Regions from separate parts of the Homo sapiens genome. Here region 1 is linked to region 2. Evidence: fine-mapped expression QTL. A gene starts in region 2. The other region holds a variant in brackets. All regions are shown on one strand. Distances are from middle to middle.

Region 1 (15,355 bases), 88 kb after region 2:
GGGGAGGGGAACTGCACCCAACCCTTAACAGGCCAGCTCGCTGCCGATTGGCAAGAGGAGGGCCTCACCCAATTCCAGTCTACTCCTTCTGCCCTACCAGCACACTTGGGCTCAGGGAACAAACCCAGCCTAGAGCACTCCAGGGCTTAGGAGGTGGGAGCCCCATTTCGTGGCACCTTGATTGTGGTCCTCATTGATATCCTCAGTGGTGGCATTGCCCTTCTGATGAGAATAAGTAAGAAGATGATTCCTTAGGTTATTGACCATGCCATTGAGACTGAGAAGATGATTGAAAAGTACAGCGGGCTAGCCTCGGACCTGCTCACCTGGATCGAGCAGACCATCACTGTCCTGAACAGCCGCAAGTTTGCCAACTCGCTGACGGGCGTCCAGCAGCAGCTGCAGGCCTTCAGCACCTACCGCACCGTGGAGAAGCCGCCCAAGTAAGGGCCCTGGCACATGGGAGGGTGGTCCTCAGTGGCTGGGAAACTGACCACCAAAAGGTAGAGCCAGGTTCTGGGCCTTATGAAGTGTGTCCACAAGGCACACCCTCAAGATTAGAGAGCTGTATGTGTGTCACCTGCCTTGTGCCCCTCTTCACCACTCTTCTCCCAAGCCATCAGCTTAGAGAAACCAGCATTGATGAGAAACCTCGACTCACGACCAAAGACAGTGGCTTCTCCCAGATATCCCTGAGGAGGAACAGGAGGGAAATCATAGGCTTCTGAGTCTCTTTGAAGAACCCAGGCTGGAAAGCTCCTCTCTGGTCTGCCACTGAGCTGTGGGCTTGTTTTCTGATGACCTCTGTGCTCTCAGCCCCTGAGCTCTCTGCATGGGGCCTTATGGATTGTCAAGTTCATCCTTCTTTTTCTCTCCCATCTGTCACTGCTCAGCAACAGACCACTTAGCCTGCTTCTCAGGACCTCTGCCCCACCCTAGTGTGTGCAGAGCCTGTGTGCATATGCTTACACACATGTGCATGCAAACAACCGTGCACACACATGCATACCTGCATACACATAACCATGCATACACACAACTGTGCACCCATGAACATGCATGCACACACAAACATACACACACAACCGTGCACTCATACACATACACCTAACTATACATGCATTTATGTGTGCACACATAACTATGCACCCATGCACATATATATGCACATACAACCACATGTACAAATGCACATACATATATACAACCATGCATGTGCACATGCACACACAAACATGCACACATACACACATACACACGGGGCATTCCAGCTTATCTGCCATTAGCTTGTCCAGATCCTCTGAAATAGGCTTCTAGCTCATTGATGGTACCTTCTGCTCTGCTCTTCCCCCCATCTCCCACACTCTGCATTCATGACTTTCAAATGGGGAAAGGTGAAATGCTGAGTCTAGGATATACTATAAACAAGTATCTGGTTTCTAGTCTGACAGTAACCCATTTCTGAAGCCCTAAATCCAATACAGTTAGCATCCTCTATGAGTCTACCAGTCACTGCACACAGAGGTGTTATCTCTTGGCTGTGTAGACAGTGCTTCACGGTCACAGTTCTCTTAAGTGCCTGTGAGCACTGAGATCCATTAGGCTGGGCTCAGGGTGGGGACCTTGCATATAGCTGATCCTTGACTGCCAGGTCAAGGATGCAGAAATGGGTGGACACTTAGGTACATGCAGAAATGTGGAAGTACCTGATACCTGGAGCCTGTACCCCATATGCTAGACACCGATCCTGCTGACAATTCTTGTCTCCTACACCTACAAGCCTCTCAGAGCCCAGCCTTTCCTGCCTTCTGGGAAGCATCTGGCCTGTAGGACTTGTCAGGAGATCTGGCTCATTAGGACCTGGGTGAAAGCTGTTTTCAGTGCAGGATGCTCTCCCACGGAATATGCTGCTTCTGGGGTTTTATTGACTCACTTAATAAGGAACTGACCAGAGAGCTAGTAAGAAGCCCTCATCACTTGCAGCACAGAGAAGGTTTTTTAAAATTTTTTTTGTATTGATCCGTACAACTTGATATTTACAGGAATTACCAGAATACCTCAGCTTCCCATGTAGAGGCAAATGATAAATGCTGTGGTGGCCATTGTGTTTTCTCTGGTTTATATTGTAAAGACCCAAACCCCTAATAGATCTCAGTTGGTGAAAAGGATAGATGTTTTAACAGGTAAGCAGACCTACAGATTCTCTTTAGTTTTTCTGTGTTTTTAAGGGAAATATGCTTTGCTATCTACGCTTCAAGATGCCACAGTTCCGTGTTGACTTTAGCAAAAAAATTTGGCCATGAGATCTTAACATCAGTCTTCCTACTTCTGTTTTCTTGACAGGTTTCAAGAGAAGGGGAATCTGGAAGTTCTACTTTTTACCATCCAGTCCCGGATGAGAGCCAACAATCAGAAAGTGTACACACCCCACGATGGGAAACTAGTGTCTGACATCAACAGGGTACCACAGCATTTTCCGTTATGCATTGACAGTAGATTGATTGAATTCCCGATAAGGACACAGTGAATGGTCATTGGACCAGATTAAACCAAGCCACTTTCTTTGATGTTATTAATCCACATGTTGACTATTTGGGGGAGTTATCGAACCTGGTTCTGAGGGGTCAGACTCTACTCCCCCACCCTCCTTCAATCCCCCTGTTCAGATGCCCTGCATCCCTGAGTCCTTTTTTTTTTTTTTTTTTTTTTTTTTTTTTTTTTTGGAGACAGGGTCTCACTCTGTCACCCAGGTGGTAGTGCATTGGCACAATCACAGCTCACTGCAGCCTCGTCCTCCTGGGCTCAAGTGATCCTCCCACCTCAGTCTCAGTAGCTGGGACTACAGGCATGCACCACCACACCTGGCTAAATGTTACATTTTTTATAGAGACAGAGTCTGGCAATGTTGCCTAGGCTGGTTTTGTACTGGGCTCAAACAATCCTCCCACCTTGGCCTCCCAAAGTGCTGAGATTACACGTGTGAGCCATCACACCCAGCCTCCGAGTCCATTTTTTTGGAGCCAGTTTTGTAGCCTATCCTCTGTAGAACCTTGAGTTTGTCTTTGAAGATGGAATATTAACTACTTATAACCAAAGGGAAATGCCTATGACATTTCAGAGGCTTGGAGGCTTACCACCACCTGGCAGTTCATATTGAACGGAGGTAGCCATTAGTCAATAAGAACTTACTGAGCATCCAGAGAGGTGAAAAACATTATTTTGGGCCAAGAGTCTGAGGCAGGTTTAGGGGAAGAGGGAAGTGAGACTCATGAGCAGTGCCCTCTGAATCTTTGATGGGCCCAGACATGAAAGCCAAAGGCTTTTATTGATCTTTAATCTGCTACCACGTCACCCAAGAGCATCAGGCTGTACCTTGATTCCAGAAATCACTCAGTGTTGGGTGAAAGGGGTGGAGCCCCCAAAGTGAGGCATTTCTCCTGTGCCCCAAGAATTCTCATTCCATCCTTTGTGCAGGCCTGGGAAAGCCTGGAGGAAGCTGAGTATCGGCGGGAGCTGGCCCTGAGAAATGAGCTCATTCGGCAGGAGAAGCTAGAGCAACTGGCCCGGCGCTTTGACCGGAAGGCCGCAATGAGAGAGACCTGGCTCAGTGAAAACCAGCGCCTCGTGGCCCAGGTAATGAGGGACATGCTTTGGGTGACAGGAGAGGGGACATTCTTCAGAGCCCCCAGCTCTTGGCTGGGCTGGAGTCCAAGCTGGCTTCTCACAGCCTCTCCTCGTGCCTTGCAGCACAGCTCCCCCGTGATCCAGTGGATCAAGATTTGCATCTGGGGAGGAGCTCTCCAGGATTTATTAAATCTCATTTTTAGGAAAGAGCCTTGGAGTCTAGAACTGGCCGCTGAAGTTGTCTTATGTGGGCCTGTAGTGTCAACTACAGCTGGGGTTTCAGTTGATGTTAAATTGTGGTTCTTGGGGGATATGGTAAAATCACAGACTGCACCTTGTCTGTGTCAGGCATGCCTTTTGGACTCTGGTCTCTGGTGCTGTGACATAATTCTAGCTAAGAATTGACCCCAGGGCTGATTCTTCATCAGAGCATCTGTTCCCTCTCACTTAAAGCTTGGAATCAAATTAGATTCTGTCCAGAAAGGGGGCAACAAGTATTCTGAGAGCACTGGAGAGTGTATGCGCACCCCAGATAGCATGTGAATAAACCATCTGTTTGCTGGTGCATGGGTTTCCGAGTGAGAAGCAGCCCCTTCCTGCCCCAAATCCAACAGGTCCACTCGAGGCATGTGGGGAGTGCCAGCAGGCTGCCAAGGGGCTCCATTAGTAACACGCAGGCTGCATCTCCCACGCGGGTGGCACGGGGAGTAAAATCATGAACTTCTCTTAGAGTCTCTTGTGAGACATTAATTTTTGGAACTTGGGTCTGATAAGACAGGCTGCAAAAGTAAGGCAGAACTAGCTGCTTCTTGGGAATGTGCTTTCCCATCTAGCACTGGTTCTGAAGGGAGCTGCCCTGTCCCTGAGTTTGGGGATGAGCCCCTGGGTGTCTGACTGAGCTGCCTGTTTTTCTCCCGGTGGGGCAGGATAACTTTGGGTATGACCTGGCAGCTGTGGAGGCCGCCAAGAAGAAGCATGAGGCCATCGAGACCGACACGGCTGCCTACGAGGAGCGGGTGAGAGCCCTGGAGGACCTGGCTCAGGAGCTGGAGAAAGAGAACTACCATGACCAGAAGCGCATCACGGCCCGCAAGGACAATATACTGCGCCTATGGAGCTACCTGCAGGAGCTGCTGCAGTCCCGGCGCCAGAGGCTCGAGACCACCCTGGCACTGCAGAAGCTCTTCCAGGACATGCTGCACAGCATCGACTGGATGGATGAGATCAAGGTGGGCCCTGGGGGCCGCCCCCGCCATGCCCTGCAGTGCTCACCTTGGGTCTCAGTGGCCCTGCAGTTAGCATAGGCTTCCTTAGACACCTCCCAGCCAGTCATATCTCTGAGTCAAAATAGAGAAACTGAGGCAGCAAAGTGTCTAGCTGCACCTGCCTCTCTGCCTCTTGGTCCACTCTGCTCCAGCAGGTGATACCAGCCCAGGTCCATGGTACCCTGGTGACCGAGAAATCTTGGGTTTGTGGCAGCACCGGTGCCAACCTTCAGGGCCTTGAAGAGACAGACATTAATCAGGAACCTGGAGAATCAAGCTCTTAGTAATTACAATTTGACTCTGGTTAG[A/T]ATCCAGACCTCCCAGCATGAGGGCAACCTCTCCTCTCTCTCTGCCGCAGTGGGTCTCAGCTGAGGACACACATCAGACTGCCCCTGGAGCTTTGTGAAAATACACATGGCCAGGCCCCAACCCTGAGACCGATGCAGTAGATGAGTGTGGGGCTTGAGCATCTGTAAGATGTTCTATGGATGATGCTGATGGGCACCCCCAGTAGGCACTCTCCCTCTGGAGCTTCTTCCATCCTCAGCAGCAGCCCTTTTCTGGCTGCATTTGGCTCACCCTTGCTCAGATTACTAGAGACATGCCCTTTGCAGGGGTCTCTTCTCCTAATGTGTAGGTCTCTTCACTTCTCCTCATTTCCTTTCTGCTGTTCTCTTTGCCAGGCTCACCTCTTGTCTGCCGAGTTTGGGAAGCACTTGTTGGAGGTTGAAGACCTGCTACAGAAGCACAAGTTGATGGAAGCTGACATCGCCATCCAAGGGGACAAAGTGAAGGCCATCACCGCAGCCACCCTGAAGTTCACCGAGGGGAAAGGTGAGACCAAGTCTGTCTCCCCTTTTGAGGCTTCCAATGCCAGAGCCTCACCTCTGGCCTAACAACCCAACTTGGATAAATCTCCTGGAACCAACTTTAAAGTTCTGTTACTTTCATCAAGTAATGGTCCAAGAAAGAAGCTTGAGGGACCAGCCAAATTCTCTAGAGAGCAGGCAACTGCTTCGGTAACCTATAATCACCAAGGAGGCACCCTCTGTCCTTCATTCTCCTTGCTAGTTCAAGTTATGGCTGAGACAATTTAGGTTTCCAGATTCTTGTTTTAAATAAGAGACCTCACTGCATCTTTCAAGAATGACCTTGAAATTTTTTTAATTAATTTAAAAATAATTTTATGTTGTACATTTCTATTAAGAACTAACCCCACTTTTTATCTTCCTTAACCCTGAAGTTCAGTGGGAAATAATTATAAAGAATCTGTCCACCCTCTGAGCAACTGGGACCCCCCTGCATCCAACCCCAAAGCCCCAGTGACATGGCAGCTTCAGGGTTGTGTAGTTCCAACCTAGCAGCTTATCTGAAGCGTGCCCATAAATGAAGCCCATCCCCCACTTTGTCCTCCTTCCCCCTATTTCTTCCAGGGTACCAGCCTTGTGACCCCCAGGTCATCCAGGACCGCATCAGCCACTTGGAGCAGTGCTTTGAGGAGCTGAGCAACATGGCAGCTGGGCGGAAGGCCCAACTGGAGCAGTCCAAACGACTCTGGAAGTTCTTCTGGGAGATGGATGAGGCTGAGAGCTGGATCAAGGAGAAGGAGCAGATCTATTCTTCCCTGGACTATGGCAAAGACCTGACCAGTGTGCTCATCTTACAGCGCAAGCACAAGGCCTTTGAGGATGAGCTCCGTGGGCTGGATGCTCACCTGGAGCAGATCTTCCAGGAGGCTCATGGCATGGTTGCGCGCAAGCAGTTTGGGCACCCGCAGATCGAGGCCCGCATAAAGGAGGTGTCGGCACAGTGGGACCAGCTGAAGGACCTGGCTGCCTTCTGCAAGAAGAACCTCCAGGATGCTGAGAACTTTTTCCAGTTCCAGGGCGATGCGGATGACCTGAAGGCTTGGCTGCAAGACGCCCACCGGCTGCTCTCTGGTGAAGATGTGGGGCAGGACGAAGGGGCCACGCGGGCCCTGGGGAAAAAGCACAAGGACTTCCTGGAGGAGCTGGAGGAGAGCCGTGGGGTGATGGAGCACCTGGAGCAGCAGGCCCAGGGATTCCCCGAAGAGTTTCGGGATTCCCCAGATGTGACCCATCGGCTGCAGGCCCTGCGGGAGCTCTACCAACAGGTGGTGGCCCAGGCGGACCTGCGTCAGCAGAGGCTGCAGGAAGCCCTGGACCTGTACACGGTGTTCGGGGAGACAGACGCCTGTGAGCTGTGGATGGGAGAGAAGGAGAAGTGGCTGGCCGAGATGGAAATGCCAGACACCCTGGAGGACCTGGAGGTCGTGCAGCACAGGTCAGAGTTAACTCATCTTTTCCTCACGTCCCTGTACCCAGGCCTGGGCACCATCTCCCACCTAGTTTGGTAATAGTCTCTGGATCAGCAAAGGTCTCTTTGAGAGGCCCTGGGATGTCCTTTGTTGCAAAGTCCTGGCATTAGGAGTCATAAGTTCTATTCTGGCTCTGTGGCCTGGGGTACTTCACCCTTTGGGGCCTTGTGTTCCTCAAACAAAGGGAATTTATCTAGTCCAGTTATTCAATTACTTTTCAGCAATAGCAGTCTTTGCTCAGATGAATTGTGTATGGAACCCCCAGGTCACACAGAGGAAAAATGGAGCTACTCTGGAGAAGGAGGTTGAGAGGCCAGGACCCTGCCAGCTCTAGCTTTCTGTGGCAGTCCTTAAGCCAGGAGACTCTGAGGGGCCACAGAGAGAATTTGCAAACCCCCTGTCTGCAAGGCCACTCTCACCCCTGGTGTTCTGATTTTGTCAGCACCCCAGATGATGAGGCATGCCCCAGTCTGTGCAGCATCTCAGCAGCTGAAGCACAGAATTCAGGCAGTCAGGAGAAGGAGAGGCCGCTCTCTGGAACAGTGCCAAGGTGGTGCTGCACTGATGCTGGAGAGTCCTGGGCTCTTACCCTAGAAGGATCGGCCTTCAGAACCACAAATTCCCCCCGACCACCGCCCCAGCAGCTTTTCCTTATCTTACCCAGGAATGGAGCACCTGGCTGGAAAGGGTATCTTTTGGGTTAAGATGTCAAGGCATTGGACTCAGAGTCCAAAAGCAACAGCCGGAAAAGCAGAGGCCTGGAAGGTGGCCCTTGTGACAATTGACATCCCCCACACAAATACACAGTAACCTCTCTTCAGCCCTCCCTCCCCTTCATATGTCTCTCTTGAGCCAGAAGCCCGTGTAGGAAGTAACTGGCTCTCTCCCGGCCTGTTCCAGGCAATGCTAACTCATGAAATCAAACCCATGAACCAGAAAGGAGGGCCAGCATATCTGTTTTCTTCCTCCTGCCTCACCTGGGCAAATGGTTTAGGCAGTGGAAGGAGAAAGCAAGAGCTACATGTTCTGGAGACTGGGGGTGCCACTGGCAAGGAAATGTCTGCTGCCGCCTCACCCATCCTCATATTTTCCTTTGCCCATATCAGGTTCGACATCCTGGACCAGGAGATGAAGACCTTGATGACTCAGATTGATGGTGTGAACCTCGCTGCCAACAGCTTGGTAGAGAGTGGCCACCCACGCAGCAGGGAGGTGAAGCAGTACCAGGACCATCTGAACACCAGGTGGGGTGTGGGTAGGGCATGGGGCGGGGGCATTGTCTCTCAACATCTGACACACTGCTGGGGGCCGGGCCCAAAATTTAGTCCACCTAGTATGCACCAACACTTCTATACCCTCAACATTCCTGTCTTTTTTTTTTTTTTTTTTTTTTTTTTGACACAGAACCTCACTCTTTTACCCAGGCTGGAGTGCAGTGGTGCGATCTCGGCTCACTGCAACTTCCACCTCCTGGGTTCAAGCTATTCTTGTTCCTCAGCCTCCCAAGTAGCTGGGATTACAGGCGTGCGATACAATGCCTGGCTAGTTTTTGTATTTTTAGTAGAGATGTGGTTTCACCACGTTGGCCAGGCTGGTCTCATTCCTGGCCTCAAGCGATCTGCCCACCTCGGCCTCCCAAAGTGCTGGGATTACAGGCATAAGCCACCGCGCCCCCACCGACATTCCTGTCTGTCTCAGCCACAGTCCCCTTCCCAGTAGTACTGGAACTATAGCAGCAAGGAGGAATGATTGAGGTGGTGAACAGCCCAGGGAGGGAGAGAGACGAGTCCTGGGAGGCTCGAATGCTGTGCCTGGGGAGGGTGGGTGTGTATGTGTGATGGAGGGCACATCCCAAGTGTGCCCAAACTTAGAATCAGGCCATATGCTTCTCATGCTATATTTCCCTGGACATTCTTGGGCAGAGAAAATTGCTTTCTGAGAGCTCTTAAGTACTGTCCATAAAATAATGCTCCTGCCTCTGCCAAATGCAGTATCGATAATGAGGCTGGCTTGAAGGAAGAGGAGAATTAGCAGGGAGCCTTAAGCAAGCTTTGTGGCCAGAACAAAAAATAGGCCCCAAGGAGCCTTTAGAGAGGGGGTGCTTTCAGTGTGGGGTGAAATTGCCCATGAGTTCCTGGAGGATCTTTGAGGACACCGCAAATGCCTGCATTCCCTGTCTTTACCGTGGGCCCTGCACATGCAATGCCACATGTTCACCACCTCCCCATTACCCCAGCCCCTTCCCCACACCTGTGCCTGAGCGTTGCTCTGCCTGAGGCAATCTGGGAGGTGGGCCTAGGGAAGACTCCATTGTAAAGAAAGGGATCGGCACAGTGGAGAGTTCACTGGGGGGCTAAGGGGAGGCAGCGATGACCAGAATTCTTTAGAGCCACTAGAATGGGATGATTGTCTTAGCAGCCCAAGCTGCAGAGTGCGGTTTAGGAGATTCCTTTGTCAATCTGATGTTTTACAAAGGAAGAGAATACCTCTTCCCTCTTCTTTCGCCTTGTAGGTAATGAGTTTGTGTGTGTTGGTGGGCAGGAGGTGGTAGAGATTATTGCAATTGCTGCATAATTGAGGAAACTAGAGCAGGTCTAAACCAGAGAAACTTCCTGAGAGGAAGAACTCATCAGCTCAACAATAAACTATAGTCTGAGAATGTTGATCTTTACAGACCCCTAAAACAGGCCCCATCCCCAAGAGAAAAATATCAAGGTACCTGCCATCCTTAAGTGAGAAAAAAACCCGAGGCATGAAATTAAATTTGAGAGTTGAAAGGAACCTGAGAAGTCACCCAGTCTAGCCAGTGATGGGGAACTCACTCCCTCACCCGGCAGCCTATCTCATTTTTGGGCAATTCTTTTTGGTTAAAAAGTTTGCTCTTCCATTGAGTGGAAATCTGCCTCCTTGAAATGCGTACATATTGATTCTGGCTCTGCCCTTGAGAGATATCACACTTACCCTGGTTCCTCTTCCGTGTATAGCTCTTCAATTATTTTTCAGAACAATGCTCATTCTATACCTCCACCCCCAGTGTCGCCTCATGCCTCTGCGGTTCTTTCCCTCAGGGTGCATTCTCCCTCCCTCTACATATTCCAAATCCTGTCTCTGCATGAGCCAGTCCAAGTCGCTTGCTTTCCAGTTTTCCAGATGAAAAGCAATCTTTTCCTCCTTTGTACTGGTTTTGAGCTTCATATCCTATCTTACATTCTAATTATTTTTGTCCCCAAGGACTTTCCTGCTAGACTATGTAAACAAATGAAGACCTGTATCTATTTATATTGCCCAAGGGCTTTGCACACCTAATACATTTTTGGGGTTCCTGCTGTTTAGAGTATTATTTTCCTAGCTATGCCCTTGGCTTACTCTTTTTATTCAGGTCTCAGCTCAAATGTCAGCTTACTGGCATGGCCCCCGCTGACCGCCCCATGGAAAGCAGCACATCCTTCCTCTCACTGACCCACTTGGCCTCTATATTGTTACCTTCTTTTATTTTTTCTTTGCGCTTATCACCACTTGATGGATTATAGACTTGTTTATGTCTCTATCCACTTGAATGAAAGCAAGGACTTTGCATTACTCTTTATTAATTAATTAATTAATTTTTTATAGAGACAGAATCTCACTCCATTACCCAGGCTGGAGTGCAGTGGTACAATTTTGGCTCACTGCAGCCTCAGCCTCCCAGGCTCAAGTGATTCTCCCATCTCAGTCTCCTGTGTAGCTAATGCTACAGATGCACACTACTATACCCAGCTAATTTTTTGTTTTTTTTGTAGAGATGAGGTCTCACTATGTTTCTCAGGCTGGTCTTGAACTCCTGGGCTCAAGAGATCCTCCGGCCTCAGCCTCCCAAATTGCTGTGATTTACAGGTGTGAGCCACTGAGCCCAGCCTGCATAGTTCTTTGTCATATCCCTAGTGCCTAGGTCAGTGTCTGCCACAAGGCAACTGAGAGTTGCTTGATAAATGCTTAGTACATGAGTGAACTGGGAAAAAACTAAGGTTTTTCTGCCAAGCTTATGTGTGAGTCATTCAAACACTTGATGAATGTGTGATCATCTTTCACCGTATGCTTTCCAGTTGAAGAAAAACCTGGCCCAGGACCAAACCTAGACTCTTGATGTTGCCTGACCAGTGATAACTAGAGTGGCTCTATCAACCTCCTCCATCTCAAAGACAGTGCAGTGGAGGGGGCAAGTGTAGGTTTGGGAAGCAGACTAGACCCAAGCTCCAGTGCATCTTGGTGTGGCCTCCACCCAATGGCTACAGTGAGGCCACTCCAGGAAAGGCCTGGAAAATCACTATGGGGCCTCTTGCCTGGGGACACAGCCAGACCCTCTCCCAGGAACACTTCCCTGTCGATTCCAGGGCTTTCAAACAAACTTGGAGAAAACCCCTTGATTTCCTAGCCTCAGAGCACCATCTGTGTGCCAGACAGGCACGGAATTCCCAGAGCACGGGGTCTTCATGGTCTAGGATGGGAGCCGAGAAATCTGCAGGCTCTCTCTCCTCTCTCGTATCCCTGGTCTCTCCCAGCCTGTCTCTTATATCTCTCTGCAGACCTTTCAAATCATACTGGCTGCTGTTGTCACACCTTGGGAATGCACAACAGCGCTCTCTGTCCAGTCCATCTCCTAGTCCCTCAGCCTCCATCCCCTGAGGCAGGGTACAAAGATGAATGAGACACTTGGTCCCATCCTTTAATTGGTCACTCCAGTGGAGGCACTGGGGGTGTGTTCACTGACTGGGGCTTTGTGTCCAGTGATGGGTTGTGTGGAGGTCACGTGAGCAACTGTCACCCCATTGCTCCTTCCAGCTGCCTTAATCCTCCTCTCTGCCTGTTAGGTGCTGTGCACATGAAACTTTATGCTATGTTATTTGTGAGCTTGTCTGAATATTTCTCTAAATCATACACCCCACAGGGCATGGTCTGGTTATGTCTATATTCTCCCAAAGGCCAATAAAATGGCTTATACCCCTGTGGGTGTTCGAGAAAGATGGGTTCGATTAGAGAATGAGCATTCAGCCTGCATATTACAGTGATGCAGAATGAGTGAACCTAGGCCCAAGGGCAGTGTCCCTAGTGGTCTGGCCTGGCTGATGGGCAGCTCTTTGAAAGAGGCTTATCGTGTACTGCAGACTGACCCCAGGCCCCCAGGCATCCGCCAGACCTTAGCACATTTCCGTATTTCATAGCAACACTGCACTCGAAGGTTAAGATTATGCTAGTCACTTAAATTATCATCACAACTTATTCCTCCCCATTCTCTTCTTCCCTGTCCTCTTCTTCCTCTTCTTTTTCACCAGGGCATCTTTTCTCTTAGATCCAAGGTGATCTCTTTCAGGCCCTAGGAGACGTTGCATGTGGCCTTGGGCATTTACTTGGTTCCTCTAGGGCAGCTGGGGACCCTATGTCCTGAAGCATTCTTGAAGTTAATGTGAGCCTTTTAATTATTTTGATATTTCATAAACTCTGGGGAAATTGTATATTTGCCTGAACTCCAACTACATGCATAGACTTTGCTTTCATGTTCCTTTACTTATGGTTGGAGTCACATAATTAATTGCCCCCTGCTGATCAAAAGATCTGATTGACAGTTATATATGTCTTGAGTAAAATTGGAGAAGTGAATTTTGCTCACCTACACTTCGTTAGGTAGATTTTTTTTTTTCTTTTTATCATACAAAGTCTGTGGGGGGAGACTTGTGGGAAATGTGGGAAGGGGTCAGGGTCTCCTATGGGAAGAAGAGCTAAGGGAGAAGGTGTCTCTCTCCTCCGGGCTGTGTCCCCATCCGGCAGGTGGCAGGCATTTCAGACCCTGGTGTCGGAGCGGCGGGAGGCTGTGGACTCAGCCCTCCGAGTGCACAACTACTGCGTAGATTGCGAGGAGACCAGCAAGTGGATCACGGACAAGACAAAGGTAGTGGAGTCCACAAAAGACCTGGGGCGGGACCTGGCAGGTATCATCGCCATCCAGAGGAAGTTGTCAGGGCTGGAGCGTGACGTGGCCGCCATCCAGGCCCGTGTGGATGCCCTGGAGCGTGAGTCCCAGCAGCTGATGGACTCGCACCCTGAGCAGAAGGAGGATATTGGTCAGCGGCAAAAACACTTGGAGGAGCTGTGGCAGGGCCTGCAGCAATCCCTGCAGGGCCAGGAGGACTTGCTGGGGGAAGTCAGCCAGCTGCAGGCCTTCCTGCAGGATCTGGATGACTTCCAGGCCTGGCTCTCCATCACCCAGAAGGCTGTGGCCTCTGAGGACATGCCCGAATCCCTCCCAGAGGCTGAGCAGCTCCTGCAGCAGCATGCAGGTATCAAGGATGAGATTGACGGGCACCAAGACAGCTACCAGCGTGTTAAGGAGTCTGGGGAGAAAGTGATCCAAGGCCAGACGGACCCAGAGTATCTGCTTCTGGGCCAGCGGCTGGAGGGCCTGGATACTGGCTGGAATGCCCTGGGCAGGATGTGGGAGAGCCGCAGCCACACCCTCGCTCAGTGCCTTGGCTTCCAGGAGTTCCAGAAAGATGCCAAGCAGGCTGAAGCCATCCTCAGCAACCAGGTAGAGAGGCATTCAGGGCTGGGACAGGCGGGTCTCTCAGGGCAGTAGCTCTTGTGGTGAGTCCACAAATGTGCTGTAAGACTCAGGGACCACATTACTCTTGTCTTGTACTCTGTATTCACTCATGGGGGAAATCTTTGTTTCTCATTAGGGGCCTTTTCCAGCCTTGTGTCCCAAACTACGCCTTGTTCTTGGGTCTATCAGAGGCTAGAGAAGCGCATTTTGCCCTGGGTGGTTAGCCTTCCATGTGGCTTTAGGCACACTGTTTATTGTGTGCCCCTGGGGTAGGGGTGGGGGCAAGGCCTGGGGAGTAGTGCCTCCTCCCTGTACTACTCTAGGGGGCTCATTCATACCGTGGCCTGTGTGGCTGCACGTGGTGCTCCCACTTGGGAGGTGTGCTCATCACCTCCTCCGTGTGTCTTCATGCCTTGTCTGGAAACTTGTTCCAACAGGAATACACTCTGGCTCACTTGGAGCCCCCAGACTCCCTGGAAGCTGCAGAGGCTGGGATCCGGAAGTTTGAGGATTTCTTGGGGTCTATGGAGAACAACCGGGATAAGGTCTTGAGTCCTGTGGACTCTGGAAACAAGCTGGTAGCTGAGGGAAACCTATACTCAGACAAGATCAAGGAGAAGGTGCAGCTGATTGAGGACAGGTACTCCCGGGCCCCAGGGCCACGAGGCCCCCAGAGCCACACGGGGGTAGTGAGGACCCCAAGCTTGGTGAGGACCCCAAGCTCGGCACTATTGTGACTGTGCTTTTGGCTTCCTTTCCAGGCACAGGAAGAACAACGAGAAGGCCCAGGAGGCCTCTGTCCTACTGAGAGACAACCTGGAGCTACAGAACTTCCTCCAGAACTGCCAGGAGGTGAGGCTCCAGCAAGGAGTGGCTGCTTTCCTGGAGATTCCTTTCTAGAAGCAGAGTTCCCTCAAGGCAGGAAGTCCACAGGGATCCTTTCTAGCTCAAGAGCTGTGGGATTCCATGAGCGGGGACCTCTGGGTACTTAATTGGGTCATTCTCTGGAATCTTCAGTTGCACTGTTTTTTTTTTTTCAAATCTGAAAAGTCATCCTTAACCTGTCAAGTCTAGGCCAGAGTTTCTTAAGAGTAGTCTAGGGACAGTCTATTTTAGAATCACCTAGGACCCAGTCTGGGCCAGCTTTGAGGATGTGTGACCTGTGTCACACCCTGTGCTTTGCTTAGAAGGGCCCTGGGCTCAGGTTAATGCTCTACTCTTGCCATCTTGAAATTCTTCATGCTTTTGAACAACTCCATTTTGTACTGGGCCCTGCAAATTATGGAGCCAGTCCTGGTCCTAGTTAAAGCAGACCCCTGGGTCCCACTCAGGCCAGATGAATCAGAACTTTACGGGGTGAGACAGAGAAAGAACATTTTAAACAAACCTGCCAGTTGGAAAACTGCTAGCTCAGAAGGTCCTTGCTCAACCTGGGACCAGCTGTACAAGGAAGGTCTTTAATCCGCCTTCCCAGGTCCCTCCATTGACAGTACTTTCTACATGGAATGGGGTTTTCCCTGACTTCTTTCTTGTCATACTCCTTTTCTCTCAGCC
Region 2 (15,355 bases):
CTGTCTCAAAAACAAACAAACAAACAAAAGATTTGTTTTTAGTTATGAAATAAGTTAGCAGATTCCAGTACATTCTTTGGAATGAAGGCAGGATAGGGATATGCTGAGTATTTGAAATATATGGGGCTGGTGTTATATGGGGCTGTTTATGCCATAAACAGGCATAAACATATACCTGTTTATGCCTGGCAGTATTTATTTGAGGAGAAGGGTAAGGGTGGAGAAATAGAGTTAGGCAGCAGTTGGGGTCAGTGATGGAAAACAAATGCCCACTCACAGTTTGGAACTCCTCCCAAAAGAAGGGTCTACAGCTTTCCTTTGGTTCAGTTTCTGCTATGGAAGGTCAAGAGCTGGGTGCGTAAGTGCATTTTGATTACTAAGATGGAGATGGAATAGAACAAGCAGCACAGAGTTGTTACTCTACATGCTTAGCATAATGTGGGGCTAAATTCTTGACTTAATTAATGACTTAAAATATTAGGTTATAGTATGAATCATCTACATTACATATCATGGGATTTGTTAATTTAAAAATCATGAGATACTGCTCCTTGAATAAATGATGCTTTAATAAGCAGAGATTTGGATTTCTATGTGATCTTTGTAAAACTACTTAAACTCTTTCTTAATTTCTTAATATAGCAGTAAGGATAATGATAGCAATTTACTTCATGAAATTGAATAAAAATGACATAAGGCATTTGGAAGAGAGAAAATGATAAATGCACTTTTAAAAATAGAATTTTTCATACCAAAAAAATGAGGAAAATGATATTTCTGAGAAGACCCAGTTATATTCTGTATGAATTCTATAAAACATATGTTTGAATTGAATCATAGTTTCTTGTAGACCAGACCTTAAATCATTGAAGAAATATCCAAACAGAAATTGAGCAGCTGTAGAAATATCCAATAGAAAAGAAAATGAGATGAATTTGCAGAAGTAATGGAGTCTTTTATTGCAATGTCTTTCCAAACTTTATTGAAAATTTCCCAAAGGTCTTGGTTAATATTAAGAACAAATATTTGTGAATTTGGAAACTGCTCACTAACAAATAAAAGCAATTAACAAGACCATTTATGCTGGCAGTAATTATCATATAAACACAAAATTGTTTTATTGGTTAAACTGTTAGAACTCCAGCTGTCATTCCATATTAACAAATTTGATTTTTTAAAATTATATTTTCTACCCTTGATTTGAGTTTCTGGCTTGATAAATATTAATAAAGGAAGAGAACAAAGTTTTCATGGTTAGTTACTCTCAGTTGTCTACTTGCAGACTACCCACTGTCTGGAGTACTCAAGGTAGAGTGTTAATATCAAAACAACATTAACTCACTCCTTATAATGCGTTTGGATTCATCTTCCTATGTTCTTAATCCTGTGTACTCAAGGCTTTGGCATATTGGAGTATGGGAGTTGGAGCAGGGCCATTGCCCAAGGATGAGGACTGAAAATGACACTGAGAGGGTGGAGCAGACAGAGACAAAAGCTAACCGAATCATCATTATTGTGTTTGCTATCCCTTGTTATAAAGACGTTGGAAGATGGCAGACCCCTGCCTCCATAGATGAGCTCAGTGGTAACTGTGAGCATAAAACCTACTCGATTCACTCCATTTCTCACCCATTGACAATAAGTTAGGTATGGATGCATCAGGGTAGCTGAGGACCTGGTGAAATTCAGGCACAAATATTGCCAGCTATGTTTCAGGGAATGTGAATTCATTTAAATAACCTTATTCGAACATAGATAGGAAAGTTAATCTCCTGAAAAAAATCACAAATATGCATTTTTAAGCCAAATAGAAATGACTTTTTGAATTACCTGTTCTTTGGTTGATCTCCAAGATTGCAACCTCCTTTAATTTCCATAATGTGTTCATTCATTTATTTACTCATTTGCTCATTAGGCCTTTATTAAGTATATCTTTTGTGTCAGATACTATGCTAAGTGCCAGGAATCTTAAAACTATATCCTGAAAGCAATGGGGAGCCACTGGCTGATTTAAAGAAGCAGAGTGACAAGACCAACCTTCCTTTTTAGAAAGTGTACTTTGGCTACTATGTGGAAGCAGAATTGAAGGAGAGGGAAACTGGAGAACGGATGAACAGGTAAGAGGCTCCAGAAGCAATTCATTGTGAGAAAAGATGAGGCTGTGTGATGGACTTAATTGTATCCCCCTAAATTCACATGTTGAAGTCTTAGATCTCAATGCCTCAGAAAGTGACTGTATTTGGAGATAAGGCTTTACAGAGGTAGTGAAAGTAAAACTGAGGTCATATGGATGGGCCCTAACCAAATATAACTCATGTCCATAAAAAAAAAAAAGAGAGTAGGACATAGGTGCACACAAAGTGGAGACTATGTGAAGACAGAGGGAAAAGATAGCCCTCTACAAGCCAAGGAGAGAGGCTTCAGAAGAAATCAACCCTGCCGAAACCTTGATCTTGGACTTCTAGACCCTAGTACTGTAAGAAAATTAATTTTTGTGTTTGAGTCACCCAGCATATGGTACTTTGTCATGGGAGCCCTAGCAAATTAATACAGCCTTGGGAACAAGGTGAATTAGCACCTACAGGTCCCAGTTCATCAGATACCCCAGTGTAAGTCTGCCATTACATCTACTCAAGCTCATGTGAGGTGACAAAAAACCTAATCCTGTGTGGCAAGGAAAGATCAGGAACTGCAATATAAGAAAAGATGCAGCCAGGCATGGTGGCTCACACCTGTAATCCTAGCACTTTGAGAGGCCAAGGCAGGTGGATCACGAGGTCAGGAGTTCGAGACTAGCCTGACCAACATGGTGAAACCCCGTCTCTACTAAAAATACAAAAATTAGCTGGGCATGGTGGCGCATGCCTGTAATCCCAGCTACTCAGGAGGCTGAGGTGGGAAAATCACTTGAACCCAGGAGGTGGAGGTTGCAGTGAGCCACTGCATTCCAGCCTGGGCAACAGAGCAAGACTCCACCTCAAAAAAAAAAAAAAGAAAAGAAAAGATGCTCATTAATTTCCAAGCCTGGTTAATGCTTCCATGGACTAGCAGATGACAGGATACAAATCTTGTTTTGCTTTTTCCTGTTATTGGTGGAGGGAAATTTGAAATTGGTGTCATCTGCCCCTTCAGAAGATGGTTCATCTGGTATTTGCAAACTTGCTGCAGGCTTTCAAGTTCCTTCCACAACCATTCTGTTTGAGGCATCTGAAGGGCAAGTTTGGTCCCTAATCCTTGATTCCTCCATATTGTAAATGGCAGGCTTTTCCAATTGGTCCTGCTGCTGCTTTGTCTTTGAAAGTTGTGGAGAATGTGATGCCTCTAGATGTTTCCAAAAATGAAATGGAAATTTCACCTTAATTTTATGAAATGCATGTCTTTGCAAAAGGGTAAAGAAGGGAAATAATGATTTTTGAGCTATGGGCAGTATTCTGATGATTTCTGAACATTATCATGAGTTCTTGATACCTCCATTGTTGTTGGCGGGGATTTGAGTTTGAGTTGAGTGGAACTTCAGGTTTGTTTGGTTTGGTATTTACGTTTTTCCGTAGCTTTCCTACATATATATTCATTTCTGAATTCAAGTGGTTCATTTATTTCACACAAATAACTTTGGTTATGTGATTCAGTTTTTTGTTTTTGTTTTTATTTTTGTTTTAGATAGGGTCTTGCTCTGTCACCCAAGCTGGAGTACAGTGGCGTGATCATAGCTCACTGCTGCTTCGAACTCCTAGGCTCAGGTGATCCTCCCACCTCAGCCTCCCAAAGTGCTGGGATTACAGGCATGAGCCATCGCATCCAGCTCAAAATATTTTTAGGATCAATTTAATTCAAGGCCAAGCAAGTTGGTGTAGCTTATTATAGTTTTTGGTTTATGACTTATTTTTATTCAATGTCTTGGGTTTTATAAATAAAATCATAAACTTTAAAACTGTTCATAAAACTGTGAACTATATTTAAAAATCATCTGGCTGGCAACTCAGTTGGTTTTTATAATCTGAAAATTTATGCTTTTCTTCAACTCTGAGAATTTCTATTCTACTTTCCCATTATTACCTTCTTCTACTCTCTTTTCTTTCCTTTTGTAACTTCCATTAAGCAAATACTGGACCTTGGGGGATTTTGCCTACATGGCTTTCAACCATTTTCACATACTTTCCATCTCCTTTGTCTTTTGCCCGGTGTTTGGGGAAAATTTCTTTGGCTTCTGTTTCCACTAATTTGCCCTTCAAGTAGGTCTGTTCTGCTTCTCAACTAATGAATTTTCAATATCAGAAATGACTTTTTAAATTTCTAAGGTTTCTCACTGATTATTTGTTGTGGATGCAATATCCTTTCAAGACTTGCTGATTAAAATTAAATTATTTAACATTTATCTTGTTCCTTTTATTAACTTAGTTTCCTCTGATATTATTTCCTTCTATTAGTTGGGTTTGGTGCTTCTCTTTCATGGTATTGGTTCCCCTCTCCCCATAAGATATTTGGTGGTTGTCCTATCATCCCTTAATGTGGGAATGGGCTTGTCTCCTCTTTCTGCTTATCATAGCCTATCTTCAGGGGCTGTGAAGAAGGGTCAGGACATGCTATCCCAAGAGAGTGAATGGTTTCTGTCATTTCTTGGGGTCACTAGATCCCTGAGCTCTGCCCCTTGGGTCCCAGGATCCCCATTAACTTTTTTTTTAAGTCCTGCAGGCAAACACCTGATATTTAATGTGAGCAGGACAGAGGAGGCTCCTAAGTGAATTATTCTGTCTCAGGGCCCCTCCTCCTCTTGTATCCTTTAACTATTGCTTGCAACTTCCCTAAACTATTGCTCCTCCTGAATCTGTTTTGGTTTCCTCTGATTTTGTTTCTCTGTGAATCAGATCTTGCATCTTTTCTGTATCTCTGGATTTCTTGAACATTGTTGGAACACTGATCCCCTTTTCCTTATTTTCCTGTGCTTTTAGATGCCTGTTTCAGACATATCTTCTAATGAAATTTGGGGTAGAAGAGAAGCTAAATGCGTGTATTCAATCCACCATCTCCATCCAATCTTTACTTTTTAATTTATTTATCATCTCTACTTATTATTAAACAATACAAGCTTATTGTGAAAAACTCAAAGACTACAGAAATGGAAAGTGAAAGTTCCCTCTTATGTTAGATGATTCTAACATAAGTCTCAACTTATATCTTCTTGGCCTCACCTGTTGGTTTCAGCTAGACCTGAGTAGACAGTTCTGTGAAGGTTTACCCCCCACTCTCTGGCTGTCAACATCTATTCTCAAATGCACACCTTCTCTTCTGGCCCCAGAACTCTTCCAAATCTGCAGACTGCCTATGTGGAGCTTGCTGGGTAGCTCGGAAGTGTAGGTTTTCAACATGGGTGGGAGACCAGTGGGGGCAGTCCTTTGTCCAACCAGGATGAGGGTTAATCTCCTATCCTTCACATAGACAATTCCAAGAGGTATTCTATACTCTTCTGAGGAGGTCCCTCCAGACGTGATCCCTATTGCCCACAATGATGACCTTGATAACGAACATATGTATGTGTTTCCTTCTCCCTTCTTTTTTTTTTTTTTTTTTTGAAACAGAGTCTTGCTTTGTCACCCAGGTGGGAGTGCAGTGGCGTGATCTTGGCTCACTGCAGCCTATGCCTCCCAGGTTCAAGTGATTCTCCTGCCTCAGCTTCCCAAGTAGCTGGGATTACAGGTGCGCACCACCACACCCAGCTAATTTTTGTGTTTTTAGTAGAGATAGGGTTTTGCCATGTTGGCCAGGCTTGTCTTGAACTCCTGACCTCAAGTGATCCGCCTGCCTCGGCCTCCCAAAGTACTGGGATTACAGGTGTGAGTCACCATGCCCAACCTTTCTCCCTTCTTTTATTCTCCCAATTTCTCATTCCTGGCCACAGAGATCTGTTCCCCTTTCCCTATTATTTGACAATGCCCTTTCCTCACTGCAAGCCTAAATTTCCTCTCTTCCTCAGTTCTGATTTATCATTTCACTGTAACTCTATTAGCTGTAAAGCATTTGGGGATGCTGTCAGGATAACATGCTCTGTAGCAAATGAGGTTGTATTGAATTATTTAGCTTTCAGCTAAAGTGGAGATAACTAAAGCAGCTGAGCTGGTTTGTAAAATGTTGGGGTAATCTGTCTGCTGATTTGGAGTTTTATCATATTAATTTTTTCTTATGGTTGAAAATTATAAATTTTAAGGCTACAAAGAAAAATATGTATGCAACTATTCAGTTCAGTGCCACAGACCTATAGCTAAGGAATTATCTGGCTTGCATAGTATATAATTACGTAGCTGCAGAACCACCATTCTAGAGAACCATGAATTTATCTAATAAGTTTATTCATACAAGCTTTTAAAAAACCATAAATACATAATTTCCCTCCATTTTTTTCTAACAAAAATAGATGAAGGATTTCTTCTTGAGATATATAATAGTCTCAGCTTTTGAAGTTGGCCTGTTTTTCTTGAGCTTTCCTTGCCAGAATTTGACTTTTAAACATTTTTTTTCACAAAACAGAACTTTCTCTTTTTAACTCAGTAATAGAAAAATGCATTCTTAAATGTTGTCAACAAAGGGGAGGAGGGGATCACTGCGAATCTATCGATGACCATGAATGTTTTTGTATCCTCTTTCCCATATTACTAGTGTCTCTTGGAAAATTGAGCTGTAATAAGGATCCAGCCAAGAGGAGGGTGGAGTGAAGAATTCTGTGGCTCTGTAATACCTGGGGCGTTTGTCCCACTCAGCACATCTCAGTGTCTAAATACCCACCCTCAAGAAGTGGGACTGCAGCAGGAAGTGAAGTATCTTTGCATATGTTCAATATATAAACTAAACTCGAACATCTGGCAAACACCCCTTTCCTGGGTGAATTCTGGAAAACAGCACAATTATAATCCCAAGCAAATAACTCAGGAGTAAGACTGTTCCCTTGTTAAGAACACCAGGCAGCATCAGTAAAAGTTAAAACTTCTTCTGCATCTATGCGCTTTTAATCTCCACGGCCATTTCCATAATACCTGAGATTACCTGCGTTGATAGCTGGTGAGAAATCATCCCAGGCACCGCAGGTGGAGAAAAGAGATGAAAGCTACCTCAAGGCGTACACGTAAACCTTACTGAACAATGACCTTGATCGTTAGAAAGTCAAGAAAATGTACTGCCTTGCAAGCTGCCGGTGTTCTATTGAGTTTCTCTCCGGGGGCAACTCGGAGATGCCTTTTTGGCACCATCGGTTCTAGTATTTCCTCTGGCCTGCTGCGCCGCGCCTCATCCAGGCTTGTAGTGAGGCACCCCCACTCGCCCGGAGACCCGGGCCGGCCAGGAGGTGCCAGTGGGCAGGTGTGGCAGCCTGCCTGTTGATTACAGTCCCTACAATGTGCGAGCTCCTTGGGACTGCAGGCTGCGCGCCGCCAGCTTTGCCTGGTTCGTCCTGATTACACTAGGTTTTCGGGCAGAAACAGCGACACTGAGCTCGGGCTGGGGGTGGGGCCCTCGGGCCCAGTGCCCGCCCCCTGCCCTCCCACCGCCAGCCGAGAGAAGCCCGCCCGGGAGCGCGCTTTCTAATGCACCAGCCCCCGGGAACAATCTGTCCCTCCCAAACCCGCCACGGCGGGGGTTCACCTCCCGGGTACCCGCCGCGCCCACCCTATGGCCTAAATGTCTTTTCATATATTTTAAAAACTGAACTGTGTGCAGTGGGGATGCAGGGCGGGAAAGGCTGGAGGGCTCATTTTCGCCACCAGGCTTGCCTCTCCGGGCGCACGAATTAGGCCCGAGCTAGAGTCCAACCCCCTTCCCGCCTCAGGGGGCTCGGGGTGGCGCGGGGTTAGGGGCAATGAACGACGATGGAGGCGCCCCAGGCTCAGCGGCGGGCGGGGAGGCAGAGGCGGGTTCCAGGAGCCGGGCTGAGGCCCGGCAGGTGCCCCCAGGCGCGGAGGCTGATTGGCAGGTGCGTGAGTGGGTGGGGAAGGCGGGGGCTGGGCTTGGCGCTGCGGGAGGCTGCGGCCCCGCCTCCCCGCCCCCGCCGCGGGACTATCTGGTCCCGGCAGCAGCGATGTCCCCCGGCAGGAATGTCCCTCCTCAGATAATGTTATTTATATCTCTGGGCGGGTCCGCGGCTCGGCAGCACCAGGCGCCCGGCGGCCGCTGTGCCAGGAGCCCCGCGCTGCCCTCCTCCCCCTGCGCCGCCGCCGCCGCCACCCCCGGGCTCGGGGTGGCCCCCGCTTCAGTCCCAGGGCAGGTGAGTCCCAGGAGGGCCCGGCGGCCAAGGGAGCTGGGTGCGGGTGCGCAAGGCTGGGACGCGCGGCGCCAGCTCAAAGGAGCGCTGGGCCCAGGGGGCGCCTGACGCGCAGGGCCCAGAGGACCGGGTGGGAGTCCAGCCCCGGTTGTCGGGCGTGGGGTGGGAGGGGTGCGGGGCCCGGGAAGCCCGGCAGCTGCGGCAAAGATCATCCCGGGACGCGGGAACGCGCGCGGGCGTCCGAGGCACTTGGTGCTAGCTTTGGAGAGCGGGATCCCGGAGAGTCCGTCACCCCGGGGCGCAGGGAGAGGGTGACGGGGGTGCGTGTTCTCGTCCGCCTTCTCCAGGACCCCGGCCTGGGAGCGAAGGGGATTGCGCCTCTAGCCCGTCCGACCGCAGCGCTGCTCTCTGCCTTTTTTTGTCCGGCTTCTCAGCCTTGTGGCCGCTCATATCCCTCTTCTGGGGAACTTGGCTGCGCTCTCCTCGGGCCACCCAGCGCCCAGGCAGGAGGGACAGGTGAGGGCAGCAGAGGGGGCCGGGCCTCCGGGTGCTGGGAGCCACCCAGAGAGTGACCCCGTGTAGACCGAGGGAGGAAAGATCCTAGTGCCCCAAGCCATACTTCAAGGACCCCTAGTCTTCCTCTCCCAAAGAGTTCCTCTCTTCCTCTAAGCTTCTCCGGGCTACTCTACCCTCACCCTCCTCTCCAGTTTCCCCTCTTCCTCTAACTTGGTCTTGAGAAATAGCAGAAAGTGGGAGAAATAACAGAAGCTGTAAAACAATCCCCAACTCCCACCAACTCATCCGTACTTCCCAGGCTGGGGAAGCAGCTGCGGGGCTGGAGTGCTGTTTCCCTGACAACGAGCTTCAGGTAGGGCCTTGAGTTACAGCCTATTAATATCCAAACCACTGTTTTCAGTGAGCAATTAGAGGCGCCAGCCAGGAGTAAGGAAAATGAAAAGAAGCCACTGTTTTTTGTACATCTAAATTTTAGATGCATCAGATTGGGGGGTGGGGTGGGGGGATATAGTGACAGCCTTTTTGTACTGAGAATTTCTGTGGGGAGAGACTAGGCTGTCACCTCCAGGTAGGAGGCAGTCATGCAAAACCCCTGCCTGGAGGTAGTCACGATCCGTATTTTAGTTTCTAAGGGAAGAGATTCAGGCGGCTCCCTAATGAGAGGAGTCTGCAAATCAAAGATTTTTAGGCACAGCTCAACTGTCCACTGTCCTATCCTTAGCTTCACAGATGGCTCTGAATTTTATTCTAGAATTCCCTCTTCGCCCACCCCTTCCCCCACTATAACCCAAGGCAGGTCATTTCTTATTTTAGGATTCAGCTTTTATTCTTTTGCTCTGAGTCCCAGGTTCCAAAATGCAATTGAAAACACCTTTTTTTTTCTAAGTGCAAAATGATTGTTAATGTATGCTGAATGTCCAGCACCTGACACAGCTAGGCCTGTGCTTGCCTGGAGGCTTGCAGGCTAGCCAGGAAAGGGAATGTTAAACTTACATTGAAGAAGAGCCCACCAGCCTTGAAACCCACTAACTCCAGAGGTGGGTCATTTATAAAGAATTTTATCAAAAACTCTAGAGTAAAGCACCATTGAAAGACATAAACGCTCATGAAAATGTGGCTTTCAGACCCCTTAGCTGTTGCTCTTAGCTTTATCAGTGCCCCAGTGGCAATGATGGGGATGAGCCAGTCCTATTGATCTTGAGTTCTGGGAAGACTCAGAGTCCACTCATGGAATTGTAAGCACCCAAGGACTCCCAGGCATCCAGGATGGGCCTTGTAGCACAGGCGTATCAAGTTCTCCTGAGCGGCTTGCCCAGAAGAGAGTTGGGATACCACCTTTGGCTCTGATCAATGCTTCTTCCAAGTGTTCTGAAGGTGTCCTATAGCAGAACGCCTGCTAGATGACTAGTTTTGGGGGTGAAGGTATGACAGGAGCAAGACTCCTACCTGGGATCACATTTGGCAAAATAAAAATGAGTATTTTAGGCAAGCTAGGTGTGAATGACAGTTTTGAACTAAAGTCAAAATTTGACAGGTCTGCTGCAGCTCTGGAAACAAACTGTTTTTGGTAAATAATAATAGCTTTTATTCTGTCTTTTATGTTGTTGTACCCAGTACCTGGATGGTAGTGGAACCTCAGTTAACCTTTGTTGAATGAATGAGGAAACCAACAAATGAATGCTCAGCGTTTTCTCTATATTATCCAATTTAATTGTCATGGTAACTCTATAAGGTAGCTCATATCAACATTTTACAAGTAAGGAAACAGGTTCAGGAAGATTAAATAACTTGCCTCATATTACCCAGCTAATGAGAGATGGGTCCAGGATTCAAACTCAGTTTGTTTGGTTCTACCTTCTTTTTAAGGTTAGACACTCAGCAGGGAATATAAAGTACAAGTTGGGAAGATTTGACTGTTTGTCTTCTAGCTTCATAATCTTCATTCCCAGGACCTCAGGTAATAGTTCTGCTTATATCAGAGGAGCTTAAAAAATATTATCTGAAGATAATATTGGGCATTTATTTGCTCAGAGGTTCTTAGCCTTACCCATTATTTTCAGGTCATTGTTTCAAGGACAGAACTATAATTTTGGCAGGAGTCAAAGCATGGATTTTTTTTTTTTTTTTTAAAGAACAGATTTTCCTTTCAGTCCTGGAAGTGGCCAGGAGGGCTTGATGATACATAGGGACAGTGTGATAGGACAGAGGATGGCTATAAAAAATTCATGAGGCAAACACTATTGGAGAGGGAAGGGATTCTGGAGGTCACTGAACCCAGCCTTCCATGTGCATACTTACTGGCTTAAAGGCAAGACCTAACTGAATGTACCTGATCATTGATGTGTAGCTATGGCACCCACACTTCTTATTACTCGAGTTCATTTCTTTCCTGTCTCACTCTCAAGGCCAATATGGTTTACTTCCTGAAGTTCTGCCTAACCAAACTACTGAGATTTTATTTCCTTTGGAGGAGATTATGAGAGGATGTGTTTTTAATATCTAGTCCTTTCATTTTAGTGCAATCTTAAAGAAAAGGTACTGAGGATAAGCAGGAGAGAAGGCAGTCTCAGGCTTTAAACTCTAAACTGTTCTATAATCTCCCCCATTGCTTGTAAGGTGTACACATGTATACATTTTAAAACAATAGTTATACACATTACGATCTAGAGACAAGAAATCTTAAGTAATTATGTCCATTTTTGGGGGGCATGGGGAAGGACTTTAGAGAACTGTTGAGACCGTCAGATACGTGTTTTAACCTAAACCCAATCACCAAATTGTTCTTGAAGAGCAGCACTTTAATTTCAAAATCAAACACAAAATTTTACTGTCTGCTCAAGACCTGAAAAGGTAGGAAACATGACCAGTGGGAGATTTAAAGTAGAGATGGGGTTTCACCATGCTGGTCAGGCTGGTCTCAGGAGTTCGAGACCAGCCTGGCCAAACCTATCTCTACTAAAAATACAAAAATTAGCCAGGTGTGGTGGTGGGCACCTGTAATCCCAGCTACTCGGGAGGCTGAGACAGGAAAATTGCTCGAACCTGGGCGGTAGAGGTTGCAGTGAACCGACATCGCGCCACTGCACTCCAGCCTGGACAATAAAGTGAGATTGTGTCTCAAACAAACAAACAAAAAATTGATATAAAAAAGCCAGGTATAGTGGCTTATGCCTATAATCCCAGTTACTTCGGAGGCTAAGGGAGGAGGATTGCTTGAGCCAGGGAGTTAGAGAGGCTGAACTATGATTGTGCCACTGTACTCCAGCCTGGACAACAGAATGAGGTGCCATCTCTAATTCATGAATTAATTAAAAAGTGATTTAAAATATGTTTCTTTGTTATGGAATTTTAAAATTATAGAATTTAAAAAAATAACCTGAGACCTACAGATTAACATTTATCAATGAACTTGGGAAGATCAAGAGTGAAAATAACTGTGCTATGTGGGCTGATGAGAAATTTGATTATATAATGAGGACTGGCAAGGAAGTTCATGGATACTGGGTTCTGAAACCATATGGATATCACAAGCCAAAAATGACTGTGGAAAGAAGAATTTTATCTTTGAAGCAGCTTGTATTGACTCAGTTGATTTTAACAGACAGATCGTAGGTTACTCCTCTGTTTTAGATAAGAAATCTGAGGAAGAAGAGTAGATGCAGTGGTCTGTGTGCCAGAATCATCATGTGGCATTTGCTGGGTTTATCACAGAGATGCTTCCTTCTTCACCCCATTAGGGGAAGGTCACCTGTTTTGGAGATGGAGATAGTGATTGAGGAAGAGCGTAGGAGGCAGTCAGGAGAATTAACTGTCAGATCTGGCTCTGCTCACGGATTGCCAACTCCCCTTGGTAAATATTTAGAAAATGCCATAGTGTGTTTCCCTCTGTTGCTGCGTGTATTTCTTAATTCACAGCCAAGTGATCCACATTCTTCCATTTTCAGCCAGCCTCAGCTGAATATCAAACCATCAGGGGATCCCTAGCCTTTATAGCTCACGTAGTCTTAGAGGTGGTCATAGACAGAAAATGCTTCCTTAATGAATTGTCTGGCTAGCTTATCAAATTCCCAGACCACCTTTCATTTTTCTCTTTCCTTTTCCTGGTTGCAGGAAATATTACAAAGCCCTCTTCTTCCTACCTCAGCAAGCCCTTCTCAGGCTTTGCCATAATGTTTTATTTCCACATCATACCTGTGCAGACCTGGCTGAGGGTAGAATTACAAGGGCAATTAAAACTCAGCATATATCATGTGAGCAGTGGGGGCAAAAGTGGGCTTCCTTTCTTTCATTTGAATGTTATAAATTTAGCAAGTGAAAAGGCACAGGGCTGAAAAAAAAATAGGCTTTGCATTGAACCAGGCTCAGATCATCCAGGATATTTATGAAGAGACTAACGGCACCTTGATAGCTAAAGAACAATAATTGCTTCGAATTATAGTCAATTTAGGAGTTTCCACCATTGTGAAAAGGAGAAGAAACTTGAATAATTCCGAAAATGAATACTTTGAAAATATTTTCCATTTGTACCAGACTTAAATATGGGCGTGTCTCACTTGAGAATGTATAGCAATTCAAATAAAACAAAGCATACTTTAAAGGCATAAATTATGTGGACCAGAAAGAAGTCTGTAACCTTATTCTGTCCCTCTTTTGAGTCCCAGCCTGTTTCTAGAAGAACCCTAGGAGTGGTCAATTAGCTTCATCTTCCAGTATATTTCCAGAAGGGTGGAAAAGCAAGAAAAGGCCTTTCATAATACTGACTTCGAGTCATAAGTCATAGAGAGTTAGAGGTAGAAAGGCCCGAGAGAGAATTGAGGTGTATTCAAAAAGAGCAGACATTGGGTGTCTACCACGTGTCTTACACTGTTATGTGCTGAAGACACACAAAGAGATCAGATGGAGAATCACTGATCTGGTGCGAAAATGGCCTTGCAAACAAGCAGTGATTCAACAGGATGCCTGAGAGAGAGGGTGTACAGGAGGAAACATCTCATTCAGGTTGGGGAATGAGAAGACCTTTGAAAGTGCCTAGGATTTCTATAATGGAAGAAGGGAGGATGAGGGGGCCTGCGAGTGGGGCTTTAGGAAATTGCCCAGCACAGACAATAAAGCATGATTAGGTTAGGGGATGAAGTGTAGTTCCACATGGCAGAAGTGTGACCAGAAAGGTGGTTGGGGTTCAGCCTGTGAAGAAGTTTGAGCCACTGGAAGTTTTTAAGTCATAAAGGGGTGTGATGAAATCTTTGTTGACAAAGCTCACCAGTGGCAGTGAAGAGAAAGTGAATTAGATCCCAGCCAGTACAAGATGATGATCACAGATAACTATAGTCCACTCAATTTTCAGCATGCCTTTGTCTACACATCATCTTATTTTATCTTATGATGAGCATGTGAAGGGAAGATCTGATTATTCCTGGTTTCCAGTTACAAAACAGGATTAGAAATGTACATTTATATACTCAATGTCCCTCTAGTAGTTTATTCCAAAACCTGACTTTGACCCAGTTGCCTAGTTCTGAGGCTGGGGCTGTTTCCAGGTCTTCTCAGTGGAGTAATTGAATATTCTGGGCCTTCTGGTTGAGACCGCGGTTGCTTTTTTTCTTCAGCAGAATATTCCACATAAGTTCATTGGTTCTGGAGAGAAGACACTTGTTAATGGTATTACCCTTTACCATAGCCACAGAACCTCAAGAATGGCCCTCCAGAGTATGCACAGATGCTGTTCCAAAGCATGAATTAATGGATTCTCAGTAGCATGCCATAGATAAATGAAGGGTTCATCTGCCCGTTAATTGATGTTTTGGGTTTTTCATTCCTTTACCCCAAATTTACTGGGCATTATTGTGCTTATGCTTCATTTTGGACTTCAGCAGCCTCTTTTTGTCCAGTGATCTTGAGGGCCTTGATTTGTATGTCAGTCTTCAACAAATATTTACTGAGTTCTCATTTAATTTGCCAGACATGCTGTAGGCCCAGGGAATGTAACAGTGAATGTGGCAAAAATGTCTGAAGTCGTAGAGTGCACATTGTAGTTGGGGGAGAGAGGAACTAAATGACAAGCAACAGACAAAAATATATATTGTAATTTCAAGTGCTAAAAAGAAAAATAAAGCAATATGAAGGGAAAGAAGGGTGGTTCTACTATTTCAGGTAGGGTGGTTGGGAAAACACTATCTGATGGGGCTTCATTTGGGCTGAGACTCAAATGAAGTGGGGAGAGAGGCATGGGATGTTTGGGAGAAGAGATTCAGGTTGAGTGGTAGTCTGTTCTCACACTCCTAATAAAGACATACCAGAGACTGAGTAATTTATAAAGGAAAGAGGTTTAATTGAATCACAGTTCAGCATGGCTGGGGATGACTCACAATCATGGCAGAAGGCAAAGGAGGAGCAAAGGCATGTCATACATGGTGGCAGGCGCATGTTCAGGGGAACTGCCCTTTATAAAACCATCAAATCTCATGAGACTTCTTCACTATCACGAGAACAGCACAGGAAAACCCACCCCCGTGATTCAGTTACCTCCCACCGGGTCCCTCCCACGACATGCAGGGATTATGGGAGCCGCAATTCAAGATGAGATTTGGGTGGGGA

What was found. PIP is the estimated chance that this variant, and not a neighbour inherited with it, causes the effect.
Region 1: its variant is the best candidate, but not a certain one, in a credible set for the expression of SPTB in whole blood (INTERVAL, PIP 0.86).

Annotation. Positions count from the first base shown.
Region 1 is chr14:64,784,835-64,800,189 of GRCh38, reverse strand. SPTB (spectrin beta, erythrocytic) reads left to right here. Exons shown (of 36, transcript NM_001355436.2): 9 at 256-443; 10 at 2,344-2,461; 11 at 3,475-3,633; 12 at 4,551-4,853; 13 at 5,573-5,723; 14 at 6,323-7,193; 15 at 8,334-8,471; 16 at 13,030-13,786; 17 at 14,239-14,441; 18 at 14,563-14,653. MIR7855 (microRNA 7855) reads left to right here and starts at 14,504; the gene lies at 14,504-14,564. The variant A/T (reference allele first, on the strand shown) is at 5,198.
Region 2 is chr14:64,872,685-64,888,039 of GRCh38, reverse strand. SPTB (spectrin beta, erythrocytic) reads left to right here and starts at 8,133. Exons shown (of 36, transcript NM_001355436.2): 1 at 8,133-8,248. LOC105370534 (a long non-coding RNA gene) reads left to right here. Exons shown (of 3, transcript XR_943942.3): 2 at 2,050-2,117; 3 at 6,652-7,159. RefSeq lists silencers at 7,513-7,592, 7,663-7,802, 7,853-8,022.